Linked DNA regions of Homo sapiens: regions 1 and 3 are each linked to region 2. Evidence: fine-mapped expression QTL. A gene starts in region 2. Each other region holds a variant in brackets. All regions are shown on one strand. Distances are from middle to middle.

Region 1 (4,245 bases), 42 kb after region 2:
TGTAAATGATGCATATAATTGTTTATTTTTATAAGAATGAAGCCAAAAATGGCTGTGACATTAAATACAACAGTAACTCTAGTGTTGATTTGTACTTTTTCTGTTTTTCTTACCTTGTGAAATATTTATGAGCTAAAATTTTGGGAAAAAGCATAACCTAAATCTCCATCATCTCTTACATGTTTAAGAACATATCCATTTATCATAAATAAAATTCCTTATGGATCTTATATATCTATGATTGTCAGTAACTGAATAGGAAAGATTTACGGTAAACACTTTTTATTTCTTATGAATGTAGAACCCGAGGTAGTAGTTATAGGTAGAACATAAATTGACAGTGATGTTTTAAGAACATGCATTCATTCAGCAAATATTTAGTGAAGGCCTACTCTGTACCAGGCCATGATCTGGGCACTTGGGATACTTTAGTGAACAAAGCAGACAAAGATAATGCACCTTCAAGGGGCTTGCCTTAAAAAAAAAATTGTTAGATTTAAATATACATGATATTGAGTATCTCTTATGATGGCCGCAAATGAGCCTTGAATTCTGGTTCTATCCCTGTTATTTTCAGGGATATCCTTGGAAGTTACTTACTCTCTTTTGCTTACATTGAAAAACTAGGATAAAAAATATTTGTTCTATTTACCTCACAGTAAATAGATTAATATATGTATGATTTTGGCTAAGTTACTATCAATTAGCCGTTAAAATGGAGGGATTGAATTTGCTGATCTGTTAGGTCTTTGTTATGGTAAATATTTATGATACTTGCTAATTAGGGGGGAACCAAATGAAAGAGCATCACATGGATGAGTATGGATGATGATACTTATTTTGGAAATTTAAGAGGAATGGGCAAGGAAAACCTAAGAGTAGAAGCAAGTGTCTTATTTCTTAGCTCCCTGCCTGCTAACTTGGAGCTTTTATTCTTTCCTTTGGTGAATAATTCTTTAAAAATTTTATATTTAAATATGGATAAATCAAGTGATGCCAGCCAGTCTGAAATAAAAAATCAAGAGATTAACTGGGTAGCTAGCCCTCTTATTTTCAGGAAGAACTTAAGTTATATGTGTCCAAGATCACACAGGGGGATGGTTAGTTACAGAGCTGGATCTCTTAATTCCCAGGCAATTATACTTTTAATGATGCTGGTTTTTGGTATGTGATTTTATTTAGAAGTTAGAAAAAATTTTAAACATGATTGGAAGCAGAAATACTGAACATGGTAGCCCTCTAAAGAAGGGAACATAAATATTGCTCATAAGCCAGGAATTACTGGCAGGCCTCAGCTTCTCAGATCAAGAACAAATACTTCATTGGTCAAACTAAAGTCATCATAATTCCAGCATCGAGATGTCTTTATAGGTTGTCACAGTTTGGAATCTCTGGACATATTTGGGTCCAAAGCTCCTTTTCTTTCCAAAAGAAGAGCCCTGTGGAGACAGTCACAGTGTTTATGGATATATAGTCTTCCTGATAAAAGCTATTAGGGGATTTTGGGTGCAATAATAATAGTTAATAAAAATTTAAATAATTTGAGTAGTGTTAGTTACAGTTAATACATAGCATGTACTATGTGCCAGGCACTATGATATGACCTTTATATCTGAATTAGTAGCTTAGTCCTCATAACAAACCTTTGAGATTAAATCTAATTATTATTCTCATTTCACAGATGAAGAGCTTGGTGCAAAAGTGGTTAAGTAGCTTGCTCAGCGTCACACAATTAGGAAGTGGCAGAGCCAGGGTTTAAACCCAGGAAGGCTGATTTGACAGTTACACTATTTTGCCTTGTCGTATTGGTGGGGAAAAACAGTGAAATATTTTTACCAGGATGCTTTGGAGAAAATTTGAGTTGGCAATCTCTGTT[A/G]AAGTATAATATTTGTGAGTTTATCTCAACCTGAATGGTCTAGCTTAAAAAAGAAAAACGTTATACTAGGTGGCTGCTTTTTCTATTTTAGTTTTTACTTAGAAGATAAATTTGTCAAATTAGAATGAGGCTAATTCTCCCAGGTTTCTCCCTAGTGCAGAGGAGGCAACAGCCAGGCAGATGCCCGATGCTGCTTCATGGAAGTCTGTTCTTCATTTGGGTCTTTTCTTTGAAAGTTTCTAAGGAGTCTGACAGGATACGCTTGTTGGAGGGTATAGCTGTCCATTTCTTTAAGAGTTTCTCTAGTTTGCTTGATCTGCAGCACTGAGGTTTTCTTGCTGCACAGAGTTCATTGAGGTGCACATTATAGTAACCCACTTTCCGGTATTATTACAGAGCGAAGGCTCCTTGTAAATAACCCAGTTCCTCTTTTTTTGTCTCCACTGTTTGGAAATTTTAAATCAGGGAAGCAACTCTCAGGTAAGTGGGATATTCTTACCGAAAATAAATTCTTGTGGACTTACTCCACTAAAATAAATTATTGGGCCTTTATTGTTGTATCCCCTTATCAGGAAAATCACCTATAATTTGTATGAGTCAGTTATATCCTATAATTAAGGAAGATTAAGGCCACAATGATTGAAATTAAATAATATTTTTGATCTAAATTTTTAATTGTTGTCTTTTTTCCCCTCTTCTATTTTGCAGTTCTTCGTGCCATGAAGGAGGACAGTGAAAAAGTTCCGAGCTTGTTAACTGATTATATTCTGAAAGGTGAGTTTTATAATGGTATAGGTGCGATGGCTGGGAGGTTTGGATTAGTCAGTAAATACATCGCCTTGCTAATACATTAGACAGTAACTTCCCAATGCACAACTTTCATTAATCTTATTATGCAGGGTGAGGATTAGCTACATGACTGACTTCTACCAACATTATATATCATGGTTTTATATAATTTAAGTTTTATTGGAGGTTCTGGGTTGGAAATAATCTCCACAGTTAAACTATAAACATCAAGAGAGGTAGTAGAAGAAAATTAGTGAGATGGCACCATAATCATGTGGGTATCAGATGTTGGCAGATTGGCACTGGGAAATTTGAGAAGGGTGGTCTCTGTCATCTTGAGGACAGTGGAAAGGAGGACAGATCATTAGTGAGGACGGATGAAGGAAGGAAGAGTCACATCTGTGAACAGTGCCAAAGGGAATACGAAAGGGACTGATGTAAGACACAGGGAGGGAAGCGGGGAAATAAAAAGAATGGACTTGCATAAACCCAGGAAAGTGAAAAAGCAGCCACAAATCTTAGAGGCAAGGTGAGGCTCACACAGGGTGGGAATATTGATGAGGCAAAAGAAGAGTGAGAGGTTGAGTTGCTTTGCCGAGAAAAGAGCAAAGTTTGGATGATAAAGAAGGGACGGAAGAACTTAATTAGAGGCAAAATTAATACTTTACGATGAAATATTTTTTTAAAGTAGCAGGTATTCAGGGACCAGATTTTGAAAGCATCACAAAATGCATCTTTGTAGTGTTTGATCAAATTTTGAGAGCAATCCTCTTCTAGTAACAGTCTTCTTCTCTGGGTTCTCTCTCTTCTCCATTAAAGTTAGCTGAGCACAAGGAAGATGAAGATTTCTGAGACATTAGAAACCTCTGATGGTCTTTTCTTAAACCATAGTGTCATGAAAGGGGAACCTCAGTAGTATACACAGGGTGCTCAAAGTGAATCACACATTTCACTTGTAAGAGTCTTGATGCGGTGAGAGTAAGAAGCATGAGCTAGACACTAGTGGGTTGACACTGGAGTAGAACAGACTGAGTTGACATCATTTTAAAAAATAAGCTTTTTTTCTGATGGAGGACTTTTTCTCCCTATAAAATTCTGAAAAATTTTTTTTTTAATACCTGACATCTTTGTTTGCTTTTGTGTTGTGCTAGCATTGGTATGAAAGCTGGATTGTTCTGAGGTTCGTTCTTCTAGATGTGAAACAGGAATGAGACGAACATAAAGAACATGTCTTAAATTTTAATTATATCGGGTTCCTAGGCCTCTATGAGGGCCAGAGATAGAATGAGCTTCTGAAGCATTCTCTAGCTATTTTAGCATTTAACTGCATGGAAGGATGTTATGACCCAAAGAACAGAGTCCTCTGGGGAAAAATGATTTTTAATTCTTTACTCTGAAAACCTAGGACTATAATTGTGAACCTACCTATACCGCATGCCTTAGGGAAGCAGCACCCATCTAATTCTGCTCCTCATGCTCGGGCCGCTGGCTCCTGTCTGTAAGCCCAGTTCTATCTATACTGTACCTGCTTCTGATGAGCTGTCTGTGTGCATGTGTTGTGGTTTTGTCTTGGCTTTGTA
Region 2 (4,245 bases):
GAAGGCTGCCTTCCCAGCCCGTGACCGGCGCCGGAGTTTTGGGTCCACGGATAAAACGTGTCTCCCTTGTCTCTACCAGAAAATGAAAGGAACTGAAATTAAGAGAAGGGAGAGATTGAAGTGCGGCGCCAAGATTGAAAGGAGAAAGAGGTTGAGGGATAGTGAGGGAAGCTGGAGAAGACAGTAAAAAGAGGCCGCTTACTGGATTTGAAATTGGTGAGATGTTTTTTGGGCTGGTCGGTCTGAGGACCTGAGGTCGTAGGTGGATCTTTCTCATGGAGCAAAGAGCAGGAGGACAGGGGGATTGATCTCCCAAGGGAGGTCCCCCGATCCGAGTCACGGCACCAAATTTCATGTGCGTCCGTGTGAAGAGACCACCAAACAGGCTTTGTGTGAGCAACACGGCTGTTTATTTCACCTGGATGCAGGCGGGCTGAGTCCGAAAAGAGAGTCAGCGAAGGGAGATGGATTATCATTAGTTCTTACAGGTTTTGGGTCAGGCGGTGAAGTTAAGAGCAATGTTTTGCGGGCAGGGGTGGATCTCACAAAGTACATTCTCAAGGGTGGGGAGAATTACAAAGAAACTTCTTAAGGGTGGGGGAGATTACAAAGTACATTGATCAGTTAGGGTGGGGCAGGAACAAATCACAATGGTGGAATGTCATCCTTAAGGCTATTTTTACTTCTTTTGTGGATCTTCAGTTACTTCAGGCCATCTGGGTGTATATGTGCAAGTCACGGGATGCGATGGCTTGGCTTGGGCTCAGAGGCCTGACAGCTAGATTTTGTATTTTTAGTAGAGACGGGGTTTTACCATGTTGGCCAGGTTGGTCTTGAACTCCTGACCTCAAGCGATCCGTCCACCTGGGCCTGCCAAAGTGCTGGGATTATAGATGTGAGCCACCTCGCCTGGCCTACTCCAATTTTTTTGTATTGTAGTAAAATAAACATAAAATTACTATCTTAACCATCTGTAAGTGTATAGATCAGTGGCATTCAGCACATTAACACTGTCGTGGAACCATCACCACCATCCATCTCCATAACTCTTTTCATCTTGCAAAACTGAACCGCCCAATCACACTTAGTTTTTATGAGGTCTAAACAATTTCTTGTTACTCTTATCACTCCGACATTGTAAGCCCTGTGTATGGGGCACCCATGTATTAGTTATAACATACACATAGGGTATCTACTATTAGGCATTGCTCTAAGTGCTTTGCAAATGTTAACTGGCATAATTATCTTTGTATGTTCTGCAGGATCTAGCCAGTGCTTTGCACGTGAGAGGTAAAATATTTGAGGAATGAACTTCGGTACCACCTAAACATTTCCCATTGACTCTGGCTGTTATTCTGGTTGGCAAGTTAGGAAAGGAGCAGGTTACCTTGGGGAAAACGACTTTCGGGGCGTAATCTGATATTAGGTCGTAAGTTTAAAGAAGTCCTTTATTTTAGCCACATTTAGGCCAAGTTGCTAATAAGGGAAGCTAACAGGGAAGTTATTCCTAAATGATAGAGAATATAGGAAGTGACTCAAGGCAGTTAAGGTCTTGGCTTTCTAGTAGCACCGCGTTCAACTCCAGGAAGACTCAGGCCACCGGAGACCCAGGGTTGGGACAGCCTGGGATCTGTCAGCACGGTAGCGGGCGGGGGCGGGGCTTCGGGCCGGGGCGGGGCCGGGCTGGGCGGGCTGGGCCGGCCTGGGCGGGGCGCGCGACTGCTCCGGGCGGCGATGGCGGCGGACGGGGACTGGCAGGATTTCTATGAGTTCCAGGAGCCGGCCCGGAGCCTCCTGGACCAGGAGAACTGTAACGCGAGCCCCGAGCCTGGGGCGGAGGCGGGGGCCGAGGCGGGTGGGGGCGCCGACGGTTTCCCGGCCCCGGCCTGCAGCTTGGAGGAGAAGCTGAGCCTGTGCTTCCGCCCCTCGGATCCGGGCGCCGAGCCCCCGAGGACGGCCGTGCGGCCCATCACGGAGCGCAGCCTCCTGCAGGGGGACGAGTGAGTGCGGGGCCCCGGCCGGGAGTGGGCGGGAGCCTCCCCTACCCCTCGCCCGACCGGCAGCCCTACGGCCGCAGCTCCTCCCTGCGCCCTCCTTCCGCCCGGACGCGGGAGTCCCCGCCCTCTCGCCTCCTTCCTCCGGCCGTCGGCCTCGGCTCGCCCAGCAATTTAAATCCCCTGCCCCCCGCCGCCACGAGCCCTGAAAACCTCCGCCTCGGTACCTCCCGCCCTCCTTCCTGCAAACCAAACCCTCGTTTGTATTAGAAGGGAATCGCCCATGCAGAGCCCATAGTTAGAGACGGCACCTCCTGGGGCACCTCCTGGGGCACGTGTGTCGCCATTCATTCACTCAAGTCGCATTTATTAAGCACCTGCTGAGTGCCAGGCGCTGCTTCGCACAGGGAACACCAAAACGACTGGGCACTGTCCCTCCCACTTAGGACACAACGTAGGATGGGAGATAGATTTGTAAACAAATACATGTATGGATGTAATTAGCGCTGCAATGGTTATATGTACCAAATGTGAGAGACTTAAAAGCGTGTGTCTTGGGGAGAGTAAGGAACGACTTTATAAAGAAATGTGCAAACGAGATCTGACTGATGAGTGGGAGTGTGCCTGGCAGGTGGAAAAAAGTCTAACGTTCTAGGTGGAGTATATTGCCTGTGCATAAGTACCAACGTGCGAGGCAGCATTTAGGGCACAGGAATCTGTGGGACCCACCCGGGAGCCCTGGTAGAGTGCGAGCCGCCACAGAGACGAAAACGAAGGGCCCTGCTTACTGATGGTAACGATCGCATGGTCTGGTGGGGAGACCAAGGCATACACAAGTAATATTAATAATTACAGAATCACCTAAGAGCAATGATAGGAGGTTCACGGGGTTTTATCACAGCTGGGAGAGGTGAGGCGCAGAGTTCCTGAGGGCACTTTTTAAACCACCTGAGCCGCAATTATAATTTGGTTAAGTAAGAGTTGTAATTAGGTACCATGGTTTTACCCCCAAAAGATGGTAAATAGGAATGGTGAGAGTAAAGGGACTTGAGCATGTTGTGTATATAGGGGGAGAGGAGCCTCCGGAGAGGCTGAAGGTAAAATGAGTGGAATAAGATTGGGCGCGGTGGCTCACACCTGTGATCCCAGCACTTTGAGAGGCTGTGGTGGGAGGATGGCTTGCTTCCAGCAGTTCGAGACCAGACTGGGCAATATCGTGAAATCTGGTCTTTACAAAAAAATTAAAAAAAAATTAGTGAAGTCCGGTGGCGCATGCCCGTGGTCCCACGGACCCAGCTGCCCGGAGGCTGAGATGGCAGGATTGCTTGAGTCCTGGAGGCGAAGGTTGCAGTGAGCCATCATCGCACAACTGCACTCCAGCCTGGGTGTCAGAGCGAGACTTTGTCTCAAAAATGAGGACATGGGAAGGAATGGATTTTCAGAGCATTGATGGGATGGAGAGACTCTTAGAGGTTAGGGAAGAATTTTTGAGAGACAGGACAGGAGTCACGGGCACGGAAAGGAGTTTCCAGCCTGATTGTCTCCTTTCCTTTGTGAAACAAACAGATTTATCAGGAATAAGGTAGGAAGCTTGTAAAGACAGCCTTGGGAGTGGGGCCTGTAAACATGGCTGAGCAGTGGTGCAGGCCCACCTGTGTTTGGAGACCATCTCCTTTTATTGGTTCCTCAGTACAGTGTTCTGCCCAGGTGTAGAGAAGGGAAACACTTATAATTGGATTTTATACACACATGCATGCCGTCAGTAGCAAAAGATGACATTTTTGGAAGCCTGTTCCCAAAGAGAAGATAATTTTATGTATATGTAGATTTAGATACTCTGAATCACTAAACCCAGGACACATTCTGGATTTAAAAATTAGTGTAGATGTATTATGTATTTGGGTTTTTCAAGAGTAGCTGACTTAAATCAATTAGAGGATTGTACGTAGATCGTTAAGAGTTTTTGTTTCACTTAGACCGTCAGGAGAGTAGGTTATTTTAGCCTTTGCTTAAAAATATTTTGTCGCTCTTGTTAATGGTATTTAGTAGATGATATGTTGGTGGTAATGCATGTCTCTTGACTTGGGAATGCATATGAAATCTCTTTTTTTCCGGGAGTTGGGAGCTGGTCATCACTGGCATTGTCCCTTTTATATTGCAAAAACATACTCATCATTGCTTGATAGTCTGTTCCAGTTCCCTTTTCACTAGATATAATTGATAATTGTTTTACTCAGATATTGCTGTGCTT
Region 3 (4,245 bases), 54 kb after region 2:
TGGCAATAAAACTTTATAGAAACATATTTTCCAGCATCAAGAAAAATGTCAAAGAGTAACATTTTATTGATGAATTCAGATTTTAAATATACAATGAATAAAAGAATGAATTTTACTTTCCCATATTCCAAATCAAATAGAAAGCAGTTTTAGGAATATGTGTCATACAAGAAGAATAAGATATAAATTAAGGAAGGTCTTGGTGAAAGAAAAATGAAGCTGCAAGTGAGGTCTGTTTACAAAATTCAGTCTTCCAGTTCTGTTTCTGTGCTAAAACCAAGCCATCAAAGTTAGCTTTGAGCTTTGTAGCAGCCAAAGCCAAAAACGGAAACAACTATCAGTCTTTAATACGATTCACAATGTCTTTTAGGTTAAAACAAATCAGTTGCCTAGGAGAAGCATACATTTTCTTGCTATTGATGCATGAGAAAATTTCTCTTTAGGGGCTTTATAACATAGATACTATGCAATGCACAGGTCTTCAGTCATAAGAATAGTCGTACTTACAGTATGTTGAAGTCTAGCCTCTAGAACAGGGTCTGGCATACAGCAGGCACTAATATTTACTGACTGAATGAATGTAAGCATAATGCTAAAGCACACTCAGAACAATTATACAGAGAGCCAAAAACACTAGGTCCAGGAATTTGACTTTCTGGTCATCTGGTTTGATCCAAGCATAACGTTTAGAATATCTAGAGTAACAGACAATTAATCTCTCTCAAGCAATGAATATTGCTTCTTCCAAAAGAAATATAAGTTATATAGCAATGATTTGGAAAATATGGTTGGAGGACACAGGAGGCAGTACTGAGTCACGGCTAAGAGCAAGTTTATACTACTGATCAAGAAGAGGTCTACTTTTATAGAAAAGGAAATAGTGACAGCTATTGGGAGACAAAATAACATCTTTATTACGCACAGACTGAAAGGATAGAGCAAGATAAAAAGGCATGGAGTAAACCTGGTGACTAGAAAAATCAACATAGGTGATAAGTTTAGCTCACATGAAGTGAAAACTGCCCAGAAGTAGAGGGTAACCTAATGTACAAATGCTCAGTGCGGAATCTACAAGAGACAGTGACTAATTCATGATTACTCTCCTTACAAAGTTTATATATACATACGTTTGAGAGATGGCTTAGAAGTTCCAGATACCAGGCTCTTATGACTAGGAACATATTTATTTCCATTTATTTCCGTCATCACAAAGTCTCTGAGCACAGAGGGCCAGGAAGGAGGCATTTAATCCAGTTACCTGCTGACTTATTTTATCAATGTGTGGTGTAAATATGTTTCAGCCAAGCAGGTCTGCCCGGGAATAGTTATTTGAATTTACTTCAGCAAGTCATTTTAAAAGTTACTCATAGGAAATTTTAAAAATTAGAAAACACCTAAGTAGACCACATAGAAAACTAGCAGATCTCAGCTGCCTTCAATGCTTACCTCTAGGGAGATGGACGATATCATTTTCACTAGGCGTGGGCCACAGGGGAACCTCCAGGTCAACCTCTCCTCGATGGTTTGTCTTCTCAATGGGTATATTGGTTGGTTCTGGGACATACATTTCTAAAAGAAGGGAACATTTTTCCTAAGAGATGATGAAGCTGCTGTATTGTTGGCTTTTGTATTCTCAATCCAAATGGTGCACTCAATTCAAGACCACATTTCCTGGGACATGAAAGATGCAGTTTCTGCCATTTACATCATTCATCACTCATGCTAGAGAATCACGAGCTTTGCAGTGAGGAGAAACATGTCTTATAACATTTAAAAGA[T/C]GAAAGAATTCTCTACTCCACCAGGGTCAAAAACTGCTTTTTCACGTCAAATGGTGTTGGTTTTATAATTTTATGGAAACTGAAGGGGACTAGCTGAAGTTATTTATTACTTTCCAGCAGCTAATAAATGTTGGTGTTTAATAGCTGCTGCTCTTTAATATGGGGGTATTGAATAACTTACATAAAATATGTTAGCAAAACTTGAAAAAGTTAAAGCACTGTCCACTTCTTATGGACTTCTTGGCCATTTCCTCTCCTTTCTCTTCCCCTAAATGGGAATGGACTGTAGGTAGACCTCATGAGTATAAGTCTCAGATGTCCATTATGTTACCACTGGAACCATTTAGATTAGAAGCTGATCTTCAGTAAATATATTTACATTATCCAGTTTGATCAGATAGGTATTATACTACAACATAAAACAAACAGAAGAATATTATTTATCTCAAATATCAGGTCTTTTTAAAAAAAAAAAAAATCAGAACTTTTCTCAGCTCCTACAAATATTTCTTTGTATTTATACTTCATCCAGCTAACGACAACTAGCCCCACATTTTAAAGCAATTAATTCTTCAGAACCTGTTTTCAAAATGTGACAATAAAAGTTTGTGTCATGCACGTATTTCCTTTCGGGCAGATCCTGCCATATTATTCACTGATTTTTTTATAAAGCAATTACTCAACACGTAGGATCCTAAATACTCACCATAGCCTAATTTAGACCAACATAAAATATACAGTATAAGTATATAAATTAAAATAGGATTAATAATCCCCTCTGCTCAGAGTGATTGTTTTCTGTCTCAAAGTTAACAGGCTTTTGAGAAGTAAACCTTAAGATGACTTTGAGAGAAGAGGAAAGTGATAGAGAAGAGAGTACTTGCTAAGCTTCCCCCATGAGTTAACTGGGTACCCAGCCAGGGAAAGAAACCCAGAGAGGTTAAGTTAAATCGCTCAAAATCATGCATCTAGTAAGTGGTAGAGCTGGGATTCAAATGCAGTTCTGTGATTCCAAAGCCCAAGTTATCTTGTTGCCTCCAAGAATAGTCTTCTGCTTTCTTAGTTATATTATAAAACCTTTAAACATAAAAAGAACTGGGAACAATTATAGTTTCTACAGGTTCAGTGCATCCCTGCAAACTCGAGAATTAAAAATAGAAGTTACTGAAAACATTACCATTTGCAGGTGCAGGGGCCTGAGCACAAACCAGTGACTCTCAAATTTTTAAAAATCATATCAGAATTACCCAAAGAGCTTAGAAAATGTGCTGACTCTCACAGGTCCTGATTCGGTAGGTCTGGACTAGGTGATTCCGGGAGGTGTGTGCAGGGGGATGGTATTTAATGCACCCACTGAAAAACTCTCATGTGTGGTATGAATTTCCTGGGTGAATATGGGCAGAAAAGCCATGTCGCCATTTACTTGACACCTTTCAGTGCCACACACACCCTTCTGCCCCTCCCCTGCCTAGTCCAGGGCTTCACACTGAGCCTTCCTATGACAATAGGGGCCGAACTGCCACTGGTTTCTGAGGCCTCAGTGTAAAGGGCAAATGCGACACCAATTCCAACAAACCTGTAAATGTCAATGGCTAAGTAGTAAAAGTTTCTGCAGAGGCCCCAGAGCTGGGATTGATTCAGTTCCACCTCAGGTTTTTTCCTGAGTGAGAGGGAGAGACGTAACTTTGGAATTCTTTTGCCTTGACCCTGCATATGGGTAGATTTCCGGTGAAACTCCACCAAGCTGAGGCATGACAGTGAGTCCTCTTCCCACAGGGGCTCTACTTGGAAACAGCAGGGAAAGTTAGAAGGATCTGTCTATGGTGAAGGAGGATGTCTTCTTCAGTGATTAATTGTATTACCATTTGTTCAACAAATATTTCCTGAGCACTTCCTACATGGCAGGCACTGGTTTTGGGCATACAGTTTTGAGTGAGACCAATCCTGGCCCCCATGGGTCTCTCCTGATGAGTGATGCCTGACAGCCACTTCTTACTTCCAGCAGCTCATAACCTGTCCTGTGTATTAGCTCACTCCACCACTCAGTTCAGCTCTGATTAAAATCCACCCACACCTCCTTCTTTATCACAGAACACGCACAGCTCCAGTTCACAGTCCTCAAGTCCAAGGGAAGAGAGTCATTTCCCTTTAATTTGAACATAAAAGGGAAGCTGCCTCTGAGCAGTTTTGCCAAAAAGAACAATTCTTTCAGTTAAAAAACTGCTTGTTGAAACAAAAAGAAGTGGGAATGCTATTTGTTTCCACGCCTAGACCCAGGCCGCCTTCTATGGCCAAAGACCGCCTTCAACCCAAGACTCTAAAATATAACCCTTCTGGTATTTACTAGAAGAGCCCTTTACAGCTGTTGGCATTACAGATGGACAGTGCCAGGGAGATTTACACAAAGCTACATCCAGCCCTACCACGAAGATCACGGGCACACGGTCACAATCGCTCCTGTGCTCAT

Which allele goes with the higher level. Positions count from the first base shown, and alleles are read on the strand shown. Sizes are in standard deviations (SD) of each study's normalised expression.
As copies of A replace G in region 1, the expression in monocytes of the gene that starts at base 1,709 in region 2 goes down (moderate effect, 0.61 SD a copy in Quach 2016).
For the expression in hippocampus of the gene that starts at base 1,709 in region 2, C is the low allele of the variant in region 3 and T is the other (moderate effect, 0.61 SD a copy in GTEx).

Evidence for each region. PIP is the estimated chance that this variant, and not a neighbour inherited with it, causes the effect.
Region 1: its variant is the best candidate, but not a certain one, in a credible set for the expression of FEZ2 in monocytes (Quach 2016, PIP 0.64).
Region 3: its variant is the best candidate, but not a certain one, in a credible set for the expression of FEZ2 in hippocampus (GTEx, PIP 0.89).

Annotation. Positions count from the first base shown.
Region 1 is chr2:36,554,088-36,558,332 of GRCh38, reverse strand. FEZ2 (fasciculation and elongation protein zeta 2) reads left to right here. Exons shown (of 8, transcript NM_005102.3): 7 at 2,585-2,650. Among named protein-coding and RNA genes, the nearest start is that of FEZ2, 42 kb to the left of the region's middle. The variant A/G (reference allele first, on the strand shown) is at 1,877.
Region 2 is chr2:36,595,632-36,599,876 of GRCh38, reverse strand. It overlaps FEZ2 (fasciculation and elongation protein zeta 2), which reads left to right and starts at 1,709. Exons shown (of 8, transcript NM_005102.3): 1 at 1,709-2,000. The coding sequence starts at 1,735. RefSeq lists enhancers at 714-1,640, 1,641-2,568 and silencers at 1,641-1,860, 1,901-2,260.
Region 3 is chr2:36,541,700-36,545,944 of GRCh38, reverse strand. CRIM1 (cysteine rich transmembrane BMP regulator 1) reads right to left here. Exons shown (of 17, transcript NM_016441.3): 15 at 1,447-1,569. Among named protein-coding and RNA genes, the nearest start is that of FEZ2, 54 kb to the left of the region's middle. The variant T/C (reference allele first, on the strand shown) is at 1,779.